Linked DNA regions of Homo sapiens: regions 1 and 3 are each reported to be linked to region 2. The links are microRNA targets in miRTarBase. Many come from high-throughput screens and were not tested one by one. Region 2 holds a microRNA gene; each other region holds the end of a gene's coding sequence.
What was found. Region 2 holds the annotated microRNA hsa-miR-7157-5p (UCAGCAUUCAUUGGCACCAGAGA, at 1,347-1,369, opposite strand). A microRNA usually pairs through its seed, bases 2 to 8, with sites in the 3' UTR of a target mRNA and lowers its output. Matches are read on the target gene's strand: a 7mer-m8 pairs with bases 2 to 8, a 7mer-A1 pairs with bases 2 to 7 and ends in A, and an 8mer does both.

Region 1 (4,242 bases), not on the chromosome of region 2:
ACATAGTGAAACCCCGTCTCTGCTAAAAATACAAAAATCAGCCATGTGTGGTGGCACGTGCCTGTAGTCCCAGCTATTTGGGAGGCTGAGGCAGGAGAGTCACTTGAACCGAGGAGGTGGAGGTTGCGGTGAGCCGAGATCATGCCACTGCACTCCAGCCTGGGTGACAGACTCCGTCTCCAAAAAAAAAAAAAAAAAAAAAGAAAGCAAGTTCGTAAGGGGAGTTATGAGATGATGGAGCTTAGATTCTCAGACCAGGAGGAGGCCCATCTGAGCTGCCTCGAGAGGGAAGAGGGTCCCTGCCATAGGCAGATTCAAGCAGGCCTCTGGGGTGGCCTTGAAGGCAAACCTCTTCCCACCCTCAGCTGCGCCTGTTGTGTGCTGAGGGGAGGTTGGGGACCTGGAGCCTGGCTCCTGCTCAGGCACATACTGTTGCCTTCACAGTCGGACATGCTGCGGTCTCTGGCCACCACCCGGCCCACGGTGAATGCAGACGACCTCCTGAAAGTGAAGAAATTCTCAGAGGACTTTGGGCAAGAGAGTTAAAAGCTGCTTCACTTGGGCAATGGTGAAGGTGGGAGGTTGATTGGGGCAAATCCAGGCACTCCCCATGTCAACAGCCAGACAGGGCTCCAGGGCTTGTCCCAGTCAATACAGAGTTCCCTCTGCTGTCTGGCCGTCTGCCAGGGAGCCAGAAGGAAGGGCCTTGCAGCCACAGAGACACTCCACTGCCCTGGGGCACACAGTGGACACTGCTCTTCCTACTTCCTCCTCTCCTGGATGCTCATCAGCTCCTTCTGCCTCCCCCCCTTTTTTTTCCATCTTTTGTTCCCCTAAATTAATGCTGCTTGGATTTTCATCTTATTTATAAAGATAAAATCACCTGGAAGTGTCAAGGAGTGGGGCGGGGTGGCGGGGGAGAAGCAGCCGTGCTGCCAGGTCACCCAGACCTCCAGACAGCCGGCTAGCCCCACTGCCCGTTCCTTTTACGCCCAAGTTTTGCTCCTTGAGAGCAGATTGGCTGATGCCCCTGCAACCCCAGCCCAAGCTCTGCCTCAAAGACCGAGTGACATAAGCCATTCCCACCCTCCTAGGTTCACATCCAGGGCTGTGTCTTCCTTGGGGGAGGAGATGGTGTCGTTTAGATCAGGGTAAGGCAGTCAGGCGGGTGTTCACCACTGCCTTTTCTTCCTCTGAGCGTGAGAACACTGAACCCAGCCACTGCCCCTGGGTCCCTGTCCTGGAAATGGTCTAATAAATCCTTTTCCCTTCTTGAGCTACCCAAGTGATCTCATCTTTCCTTGACTCTTAACTGAGACTCTGAAGGGCCACCCTTGCTTCCAATTAAAAGACCCTCTGGTTTTCTGTCTCCTCTCTTTTCTAAAGCAGAGCAGGAAACAGAACACTGCAGTTCTTAGGCCTGTTCTCCAGTCAGGTGTGCAAGGCCTCCTCCCCTTAAGGCCTCAGAAGTTTGGCTGGGGATGTTTGTGGGATCCAGACAGTTCTTGCCGTTGTTCGGCCTACAGATCAGAGACTGCAAAGTGGGAGCCCTGCGTACCAGACCCGTCCTGCAGCTGTGTTTGTTTGGTTTGGTCTGCCGCTAACATTTAAAAGTCGAGAGTTGCTGGGCGCGGTGGCTCACGCCTGTAATCCCAGCACTTTGGGCCGCTAACATTTAAAAGTCGAGAGTTGCTGGGCGCGGTGGCTCACGCCTGTAATCCCAGCACTTTGGGAGGCCGACGCGGGCGGATCACAAGGTCAGGAAATCGAGAACATCCTGGCTAACACAGTGAAACCCCGTCTCACTAAAAATAAAAAAATTAGCCGGGCGTGGTGGTGGGCGCCTGCAGTCCCAGCTACTTGGGAGGCTGAGGCAGGAGAATGGCGTGAACCCGGGGGACGGAGCTTGCAGTGAGCCGAGATCGCGCCACTGCACTCCAGCCTGGGCGACAGAGCAAGACTCTGTCTCAAAAAAAAAAAAAAAGTCGAGAGTTGACATAAAAATTCAGAATTCTGACTTCTAGAAGATTAAATTAGGTAATGTTGGGCCTGCGTCCTCATGGGGCAGCCTGTCAGCGGCCACTAAGTAGAGGCTGCTCTGTACAGAAGGGGTCCCCCATCCCCACTCATCTGTGTTGCCTGCCCAGATAGCCCCATGGCCATTTCAGTTTGCGACCCCCAACAGACCAAGGACCCAGAGCTGGCAGCCCTGGACCCACGTCCGGCAGGCAGTGAAGCTGCAGAGGCTGTCCCACGTTTACCCCATGCATATAAACAGACCAAAGTCAAAGCACATTCACACAGAAAGACCTGGCCTAGTAAATGAAGCTTATAGCCTGCAAAGGGCTTTGTTCCAACCTTCCCTCTCCAAAACCCAGTACTGCTCCTCTACCTTTCAAACCTGGTTGGGCCAGAACTGATTACATGGCCAACTCTTGGCTCACACTGGGCTTGCACTGGGCCATTTCTTTGCTCTGGTTCAGAGCCTCTGCAGAAGTGAGCTAACTTTGGATCAGTAGCTCCAACACTTGGCTCCAGTGCTGGCAGGTTACCCCTCAACCATAGCAGCTGGGATCTTTGTGGCTTGGGGGTGCTTGTGTAAGTTCTTGGTTATGTGCCCTCAGCCACCAGGATATGAACCGTGTCTGCAGAGCTTCACTTTAGTGAGCTTACAAGTTTTTAAATTTTTACTTCTAGTTACATTTACTTGAATCAGAACGTTGTTTCCTCATTCCTACTGCTTAAACACCTTGACAAGTCCTAGGGGTTAACAAAGGTTAGCATGGCTATGGTCCATCCCTGTGCTCTAGTTAGAGCGTGAAGACACCTGACTTTCCAGTTGTCTCTCTCCATGACCAGCAACAGGAACCACTGACGCTGAACTTTGGACAGTGGCCTCAGACTCTGGCTGCCAGCACACAACCTGCCATCATCGATGTTAAACATGCTGACATGTGCAGAGGAGTTTCCTCCCTGAAATGCTCTGAAATTCACTTCTCTGCCTGGGGATTCTGTTATAAACCTTCTGCCTACATTGGCTTTCACTGTGGAAGTTGATTTCTAAAACTCTGATGAGCTCACAACGTTGACATGTATATGCGTTTTTTGTGAGTGCTTCCTGCTCAAAGTGGGAGAGATTTTACTGGAAATGCAATAAAGTTTGCATTTTATTGCTACCGATGCCCACCACAAAAGCGTTAACCTCAGAAAGCTATAAGAAGCATCAAAAGATTGCCATAGCCCCCTGTAAGAGCTTCTGAACATTGTCCAAATGAAAGGAGGCTCAGCTGAATTCTAATTTTCCTAAAGACCCATGTTTTTAGCATCTATGAGCTTTCTACAAATCTCCCCATTGGCTGCATCTCTGACCTTGCACCAGTATCTGGTTGGGATTCCCTTTTTTTTTTTTTTTTTTTTTTTTTGAGACAGAGCCTTGGTCTGTCGCCCAGGCTGGAGTACAGTGGCGAGATCTCAGCCCACTGCAACCTCTGCCTCCCAGGTTTGAGCGATTCTCCCGCCTCAGCCTCCCAAGTAGCTGTGATTACAGGCGCCTACCAGCACACCCAGCTAATTTTCATATTTTTAGTAGAAACAGTGTTTCGCCATGTTGGCCAGGCTGGTCTTGAACTCCTGACCTCAGGTGATCTGCCTGCCTTGACCTCCCAAAGTGCTGGGATTACAGGCATGAGCCACCAAGCCTGGCCGGGATTCCTTTTCAAAGTCTGGCTGCACCTAGAGCCAGTTTGCTTCTGCTTGGCCTCATGGGGCCTCAGAGAAAGCCACAAAGGAGGATGGGTCTTTCCTGGGTTCATTTAACTGCCATTTATAACACTTTTTCCTCTAAACAGCTTAATGGACTTCCTACTACTTGTATAGTTTGATTTTCAGGACTCTGTTCAGCAAGAATACCTACTTTACAAAACTCAGCATAAAAATGAGGTGAAACAGTTTAACTAAAACTGGAGTTTGGCTGGGTAGTGTGGCTCACAACTGATCCCAGCACTTTGGGAGGCCGAGGCAGGAGGATTGCCTGAGACCAGGAATTTGAGGCCAGCCTGGGCAACATAGTAAGACCCCCGTCTCTATCTTAAAAAAAAAATAAAAGAATAAAACAAGTTCCTTCACCTCTTGACAAGACAAAGCTGACACTTTTTTTTTTTGAGACAGAGAAAAAAAGAAAACTCTACAGCCAGAATCATACTTTTGAGTCTCGCTCTGTCGCCCAGGCTGGATGGAGTGCAG
Region 2 (4,242 bases):
AATGTCCTCGGCTTACTAAACAACAGGTCTTATATCTAAGTTTCAAATTCATGTCTAAACAATCTAAGTTTATTAATTTCTCCCACATCATACTGCTTCCTGAAAAGCAGTATGTTCTATTTTACTACCAAGACTGCCTCCATGTCTAAAATATTCAAGATGTGGCACCATCTTCTTATGTATATGAATGTGTTATAAAATATATATCAAATGGCTGATCTTAGAGTTGGAAAATAATTTTAAGTCTAGCCCAAAATGTCAAATCTGAGATTCAAAAAGATTAAAATAATTGCTCAAGATCACACAGTTTTTTTGAACCAGTCCAACACTGAAACAATGTTATCTAACACTAATTTTAGTTTTCTTTTCACTTATTTCTTATTCTCACTTAGACACCTATATTTGGCAATGTCATATATTCATATAAACTTTATTATATACTCTGTGATCACATCTACACATTATCATTAAAGACAATAAAATTTAGACAACACAATCAACCATCTTTATTTTCATAATCTTTATTTCCCTTAGGTGGAAAATCAGTGATTTCAATGTCTTTGGCCTGCAGCTCATGCCATATCATGTGTGTTTAATAAGTCTTTAATAAGTCTTATTCCTGTTTAAATTCATTGGCAATGCAAGGGCCTTGTTTTACAGACTTATAGAACATAAATCAGCTTAGATCTTTAAAAGTGTCTTTAAAAAAACTCAAATAGATGTTTCCCTTTTTTTCTATTCTGAATGTCTAAAAATCTATGAGCACACTAACTTATGCTCCTAGAAAAATGGACTAGACAGACATTTCTTGATCCTTATGTACAACTTAAAACTCTAGAAATTATACATAAAACAAACATAAGGTGACTATAAAAGTAGAGAGAAAAAGCAACCCAGCTGGGTATCTTGGGACCAAGAAATTCCATGGAAGTGTGTTTCCTAAGTGTCATTTTGTCTCATATATCTCAGACTCAAATCGTATAAGCTGGCAACCCAGAAATGGCAACATACACAGAAAAAATAAAAATAATAATCTGCTCTCTCTAGCTAAAAGACCAGGAAAGAAACAACCTAGCAAGCACAGCAGAAAACTTTACTATAGCCAGCCACCACAGGAAAAAGGCTGTGACACACCCACACCAGCAAAGGCCAAGTGGGGATCCTGGGCTTCCACACACCCCTGATGGTAATGAAGTGTCCACCCCTTCTCTGCTGAGGTGGTGTCAGAAGCAGCTCACTGGAGGGTCAGGACTTCCACCATCATCCTCTAGGTGACACTGTAGAGGCCATCTAGGTAGCCTGAACTCCCACTCTTCATCCAGTAGCACAGAGGAGTCCCAATTTCATCTCTGGTGCCAATGAATGCTGAATGGGGGACCTGCTACTCCGATAGGGTAGCACCCCTCACTTTCCCCTCCTAGACCGATGTCAGGGAAAGACAGTTAAAAACAGAAGGGTTGAAAATACGGAGATACATGCAGTAGAACATGTTCAAGTTCAAACAAAATTACTCATCATACCGAGAACTAGGAAGATTTCAAAGAGACTGAAAAAATCACAACTAATAGATGCCAACACCAAGATGACAGGGGTGTAAAAATTATCTGAAAAAGATTTAAAAGTAGCTATAATAAAATTTTTTTAAAAATAAAGGCTTTAGGAAAGAAATGGAAAATCTCAGTAAAAAAAATAGAAGAAAGAAACCGGAACAAAATGGAAATTTTAGAACTGAACGTAAAATAACTTAAATAAAAAGTTCAGTGAATAAACTCAACAGCAGAATGGAGGAAATGGAAGATGTGTCAGTAAACTAAAAAGTAGAATAATAGAAAATAGCCAGTCACAACAACAAAGAAAAAGCAGAAAGAAAGAAAACTGAACGAAGCTCCAGTGACCTGTGAGACTATAGTAAAAGACCTAACATTCATGTCAAAGAGTCCTACAAGGAGAGGAGAAAGCGTGGGGCTAAAAAGGACTTGAAAAATGTCAAGGCTGAAAACCACCAATCTGGCAAGAGACATATACCTACAGATTCGAGAAGCAGACTAAAGCTCAGAGACTATAAACCCAAGACGCATCATAATTTAACTTCTGAAATTGTGATTTGTGACAACATGGGTGAACTTGGAGTACATTATGCTAAATGAAATGAGCCAGACACAGAAAGACAAATACTTCATGAGCTCACACGTGGTATCTAAAAAGTCAGACTCTTATTAGTAGAGAGTAGAATAGTAGCTACCAAAGGCTGGAGTGAAGATGGGATGGGGAATAAGATGTTGGTCAAAGGATACAAATTTCCAGTTAGACACGAGAAATTAACTTTGGAGATAAATAGCACAAAAATTAGTAAGTACATGGGTGTTATGATTAACATGTTAATTAGCCTGAAGAATCATTCCACAATACATACATATATCAAAACATCACCTTGTACTCCTGAGATATACACAATTATTATTTGCTGATTAAAAATAAAAATAAACTTCTGAAAACTAGAGACAAGAAGCAAATCTTAATAGCAGCGAGGGGGAAATGACATGTTACATAGAAGAAAACAATTTTAATAATAATAGATATCTCATCAGAAATCACAGAGAACAGAAAGAAGTGGCCCAATATTTCTCAAATATGAAATGAAAACTGTCAACCCAGTGACCTATGCCAAGTGAAAATATCAGAAATAAAGAGAACATCAAAACAGTCTCAGATGAAAGGAAATTAAGATAATATGCCACAACAGATGGCAAAGAATGGACAAAAGGAATTTTCGAAAGCAATAGGGAAGTAAGCAATTAAAGAAGAAGCCTGTGAACATCAAGAAAAAAGAAAGAACACTGTGAGCAAAAATACGGGTACATAAAAGTAGGCTTTCCTTATACTGAGTTTTCTAAGTTGTTTGATGGTTGAAGCAAAAAAAATCTAACACTGTTGTGTGCAGAGTAAATCTTGAAGATAATTATATTACAAACAGGGGAGGCTAAAGAAACATAAAGGGATGTAAAGTTTCTATGCTTCGCTTTACTGGGTAAATGGTGATGCTTGTAGACTGATAAGTAATGAATATATACTGCAGTACCTAAAGCAACTGCTAAAAAAGTTAGACAGAGAATATACCTGACGACACTATAGATATATGAAAGACATTTTGTAGATGTGGATAGATTATTCTAAAACTTATGCAAAATGGCAAAGAAAATAAAATAACTAAAATAACTTTGAAAATCAAGGCTGTGTGTTATTGACAGAGTGGCAAACTCATTAAATAAATGGAAAAGAACAGGGAACCCCAATATAGACACCTACAATTATGCCCAAATGATTTTTGAAAAAAGTATACAAGCAATTAGAGAAAAGATGGACATCCAGCTGGGTGCATTGGCTCGTGCCTGTAATCCCAGCACTTTGGGAGGCCAAGGCGGGTGGATCACGAGGTCAGGAGATCAGCCTGGCTAACACGGTGAAACCCTGTCTCTCCTAAAAATACAAAAAATCAGCCGGGTGTGGTGGCACACGCCTGTAGTCCCAGCTAACTCGGGAGGCTGAGGCAGGAGAATCTCTTGAACCCAGGAGGCAGAGGTTGCAGTGAGCCGAGACTGCACCACGCACTCCATCCAGCCTGGGCAACAGAACGAGACTCCGTCTCAAAGAAAAAAAAAAAAAAAAGATGGACATCCATAGGCAAAAAAGTGGACCTTGACCTAAGTTTCTGACCAAATGCAAAAATAAGTTCAAAATGAATTACGAATGTAAATGTGAAATGTGAAACTATAACATTTTTAGAAAAAATAGAATAAAATCTTTGGAATCTAAGGCTAGGCAAAGAATTCTTAGTCTTAGCATCAAAAGCATGAACCATGACAAAGAAATATAAATTAAAAATAATCAAAATAAATTTTGCTCAGCATAAATCTCATGTGAAAAGAATGGAAAAACAAACTACAAAGTGGGGGAAAATATTTACAAACCACATAGCCAACAAAAAAGTATCATCTAGAATATATAAATAACTCATAAACTGTAAGTGGGAATGTAAAATGGTACAGTCATTCTGGAAAGCAGTTTGTCAGTTTCTTAAAAAAAAACTAAACAAGCCACTAATGTATGACCCAGTGATTGAACTCTTAGACATTTATTACAGAGAGTGAAGAATTATGTTCATTCTAGAATCAGTACACAGATATTCATGAAAGCTTCATTCACAATAGCCAAACACTAGAAACCGCCCTGATGACTTTCAAC
Region 3 (4,229 bases), not on the chromosome of region 2:
ATTTCTGAGAATCATGGGGTGGTGGGAAGTATTCCAGGAAAGTTCTGGCTCATGTCCTTCTGGAAAGACATGTGCTTTCCCTAACAAATCACTCTGTGCTACACTCACCAAAGGAGCTCCTGTCCCAAGATGGGCTCACTTCTTTCTTTCTCCTTCCCAAGTGTTACGTGGGTTTAGATATAGACATTCAGGGGCGATAAGCTCATTTATGTATCATAGTGTCACTAAAGATAGAGTTCATGTTTATAGAGTGTTGGTACCATTCATTGACCCAGAAATAAAGCTAACTTGGCCAGGCGCGGTGGCTCATGCCTGTAATCACAGCACTTTGGGAGGCAGAGGCAGGAGGATTGCTTGAGGCCAGGAGTTCAAGACCAGCCTGGGCAACATAGCAAGACCCCTGTCTCTACAAAAAATAAATAAAAAATAAACTAGCCAGGCGTGGTGGCACGTGCCTGTAGTCCCAGCTACTTGGGAGGCTGAGGTGGGGAGGACCGCTTGAGCACAGAAAACAGTCAAGGCTGCAGTGAGCTATGAAGGCACCACTGCACTCCAGCCTGGGCAACAGAGTGAGACCCTGTCTTGAAAAAGGAAAGAAAAAGCTTCAGCAGCAATACAATGAAAATACACACACCTGCGTATGTTCTGCATGACTGGGATGAAGGAAGCCAGGCAAATGCTTACACTTAGCTCCCCTCACAGTAGCATATTCTGTGGCCACTTAGGCAGTAAACAAATGGCAGAGCTATTTTTTTTTTTTTTTTTTTTTTTTACAAATTATGAACTTACCATCATCCTCCCATTCTTTGAAATTTAGAAAGACATTGTATTTTTTGTTTAAGTGTAAGTTCTGATTTCTCAGGCTAAGGGATGAAGACTGGGAATTTATAGATCTGGGTCAAAAGTGCCCCACAGAGCTTCTCCAAACCCAGGCGGGCTCCTGGGGTGGCTCAGCAGTCTGTCTCCATCACTTTTTCCCAGAAATTTGTCTCATTCCCACTGTTTACCTGGCAAACCCCTGGATCCCCTCAGGCCCCACCTCATCACCTCTGCCTCTACAGGGTCCTTTCCATGACTCCCCAGAGTGCTGGTAAATCCTCGTGTGCCCCCACTGTTCCTACAGTTACATCCACAATGGCAGTTCTCAGCCTTAAAGGTCACCAGAATCACCCGCAAGGTCGTGAAACCCCAGCTTGCTGGGCCCACCCTGAGAGGTTCTAATTCAGTAAGCCTAGGGAGCACCCTAAGAATATGCACTTCTAACAAATAGTCTGCTGGTCCAGAGACATTTTTTTCTTTTCTTTTCTTTTAGACTAAGTCTCGCTCTGTTGTCCAGGCTGGAGTGCAGTGGCATGATCTCAGCTCACTGCAACCTCTGCCTCCTGGGTTCATGTGATTCTCCTGCTTCAGTCTCCCAAATAGCTGGGATTACAGGCATGCAATACCATGTCTAGCTTTTTTTTTTTTTTTTTTTTTTTGTATTTTTAGTAGAGACGGGGTTTTACCATGTTGACCAGGCTGGTCTTGAACTCCTGACCTCAAGTGATCTACCCCACTCAGCCTCCCAAAGTGCTGGGATTACAGGTGTGAGCCACGGCACCTGGCCTGAGAATCATTTTTCTTAATTACTTGATTCCATGCTTGTATCTTCCACTTGACTGTGAGTGTCTTAAGATCAGGAGGCATTTCTCACACATCTCATCCCCGCAGTCTAGCAGTGTTTAGCAGTCATTCAATCAATAAACAAATATTTATGGAATGCCTACTGTGTGCCAGGTACTGTTCTAGACACTGGGGTTCAGCAGTTAAAAAGTACACACACACACACACACACACCTCCCTGCCCTCATAGACTTCACCTTCTGAGGCTACACAGTAAACCATCAATGATTATTTATTGAAATCTGACCAGTTGTACAGAAGAAAAAAAATGGCATTATCATGCCTCTCTTAATAGTACTGTGGAAATGCCTATTTTTCCCTTTCTAATCACAGTTTTTCCCACTTGTATGCTTCTTCCTCTGATATCCCATCCCAACACCCAACAGGCAAATCCACAGACCTGGCAATATGCCAGGATTTTGGGTCTTACAAAATATTTACTGATTGATTTATAAAATGTTTGGTGTACATGACATGTTAGTTAGAAACAACAAATCCAAGAGCTGAAGCATGAGAGTTAATACAATAAAGCAATTTGGGAGGTAAGCAATCTCAGTGTTTTTATACTGATAAGAATATCTTAATTCACGGTTTTCAAACTAGCCTTAGTTACCTCTAAGTGTACATCACCTCCTCTCCTGTCCTATCCCATGCCCTCCATCTGTGTAGTGTTTATGGCAGTTCTTGGCTGCCTTGTATGATGACTCTGAACTCCCCATGGTCCTACACAGGCTGCAGTCACAGCCCTGGCATGGAGCCAATGTTTGGATGGTCGTGCGTGTAATTCTGAGAAACTGGTAGGAAGCCCAGTGAGGCCGTGTGATGTGGCGGAAAGGCAGGGAACAAAAGCAGAGGCAAACCTGACCACCGCAGATCCAGGAAGACATTTCTCATGAAGCACCCCAGGCCACCCCTCTCTAACCTAGGAGAGAACAGAAAATGTACCTTCATTTTTGGAATAATTTTCTGAATGTTTCTCAGCAAATAAAAATGTGAGAAATCACAGACAGCAATCTGGAATAGCTGAAATGACCATACTTTCAAGACTTTCAGTATTTATTCTTGAGGTTGGCAAATGTTTTTAAAAGGCTCTTCCTTTTGAAGATCAAAGCCATGAGACAACCTATGTTAATTATACAGAAGGGAAGACTATATGGGGGAGCAGCATTTATTAATGGAATTCTAGGAAAGCTAGTTTCAATATTCCAGACTCAAATATTTCTTCTCTGTTAACATCATAACCAAATTTGAGGTTCACTGTTAGTGATTTCAAGAGTCAGTGATATCAAGCAGCGACACTGTCTCAGAATAACACTCTCTTCCTATTGCTACCCAAAGTCTGTGATAAACAGGACCACAGAATTAACATTTACAAAATATACTTTAAAAATGGAGACAAAGTCCACTAACTTTATTTTTATGAGTCAATTCTAATTAAGTAAATTCTGATTACTAGAAAGCTTTGGGTATAAATGTGATCTTTTGGTTTGCTATACACTGACTCTTAAAAGATGACACTTATTTCCCTGGAGCAGTTTACTAACTGTCACTCTTGTAATTCAAAAGAATTAATATTTCTCAAAAGGTGTGTGATTCCCTGCAGAGGCATGACCTCTTGTGAAGCAGACCCTTTCAAATTGGCTAATATAAAGTCAAGATAAATAGAAATCAGTCCCTGTTGGTGATTACATTGGTTGAAGTTATTGCTCCCTCATTTCGTGTAATAAAATAACACACTACTACATTATGGAAAACCCACACATAAATCTAAAAGACAAATATTCTTATTAACACCATTTGTATCCTAGAAATAAATTAGCTTCCTTAAAAAATCTTTTCAATTATTCACAAAATCCATCCTTATTTTCTGAATGAACAAGGCTGAATTTTAGAAGTGCAATGAAAAGTTCTTGAGGTTCCCCTGCAGTGTAGACAGGCCTTCTTAGTGGATTCCGAGGCGCAGCTTCTTGTCCTGGTGCTGCTCTTCCTTCTGTGGGACAGGTCTCAACACACCATCTAGCATTGAGAATAACGCTAGGTCAGGACAGCTTCATTTCAAACCCATGGGCACTTGTTTCAGCCTTACATGTTGTAAGAGCAAAACAATGCTTAAGTTAAAGGAACTTTCACTTTATTTTATCTTCAAATTCTCAATTGTAGAGAATCCAATCTAGATAACTTACTCTCAGGCAATACAGAATCTGGCTTTTAAAAACTGGATTCACATTGGCCGGGTGCAATGGCTCACGTCTGTAATTTTAACACTTTTGGAGGCTGAGGAGGGAGGATAACTTGATCCCAAGAGTTCAAGACCAGCTTGGGCAGCATAGGGAGACCCCATCTCTACAAAAAAAATTTTTTTTTTTTAAACAGGTGTTGTGGCGCACACCTGTAATCCCAGCTACTCAGGAGCCTGAGGTGGGAGGACTGTTTGAGCCCAGAGAGGCCAAGTCTGCAGTGAGCCATGACTGTGCCACTGCATTCCAGCCTGGGTGACACAGCGAGACCCTGTCTCAAAAAAAAAAAAAACCAAAAACTGAATTCACTCAACAGTGTACGGCAAGTAA

Region 1: the mRNA of VPS4A is a reported target of hsa-miR-7157-5p. Seed matches in the 3' UTR shown: 7mer-m8 at 841-847 and 7mer-A1 at 2,945-2,951.
Region 3: the mRNA of CDADC1 is a reported target of hsa-miR-7157-5p. Seed matches in the 3' UTR shown: 7mer-m8 at 2,825-2,831.

The regions. Positions count from the first base shown.
Region 1 is chr16:69,323,764-69,328,005 of GRCh38, forward strand. VPS4A (vacuolar protein sorting 4 homolog A) reads left to right here. Exons shown (of 11, transcript NM_013245.3): 11 at 445-3,176. The coding sequence ends at 546. COG8 (component of oligomeric golgi complex 8) reads right to left here. Exons shown (of 6, transcript NM_032382.5): 6 at 2,665-4,242. PDF (peptide deformylase, mitochondrial) reads right to left here. Exons shown (of 2, transcript NM_022341.2): 2 at 3,150-4,242. Among named protein-coding and RNA genes, the nearest start is that of PDF, 4.7 kb to the right of the region's middle.
Region 2 is chr2:140,585,317-140,589,558 of GRCh38, forward strand. It overlaps MIR7157 (microRNA 7157), which reads right to left and starts at 1,369; the gene lies at 1,310-1,369. The region is part of intron 43 of LRP1B (LDL receptor related protein 1B); the gene reads right to left. RefSeq lists a silencer at 1,148-1,197.
Region 3 is chr13:49,291,133-49,295,361 of GRCh38, reverse strand. It overlaps CDADC1 (cytidine and dCMP deaminase domain containing 1), which reads right to left. Exons shown (of 10, transcript NM_030911.4): 10 at 1,877-3,678. The coding sequence ends at 3,605. Among named protein-coding and RNA genes, the nearest start is that of CDADC1, 45 kb to the right of the region's middle.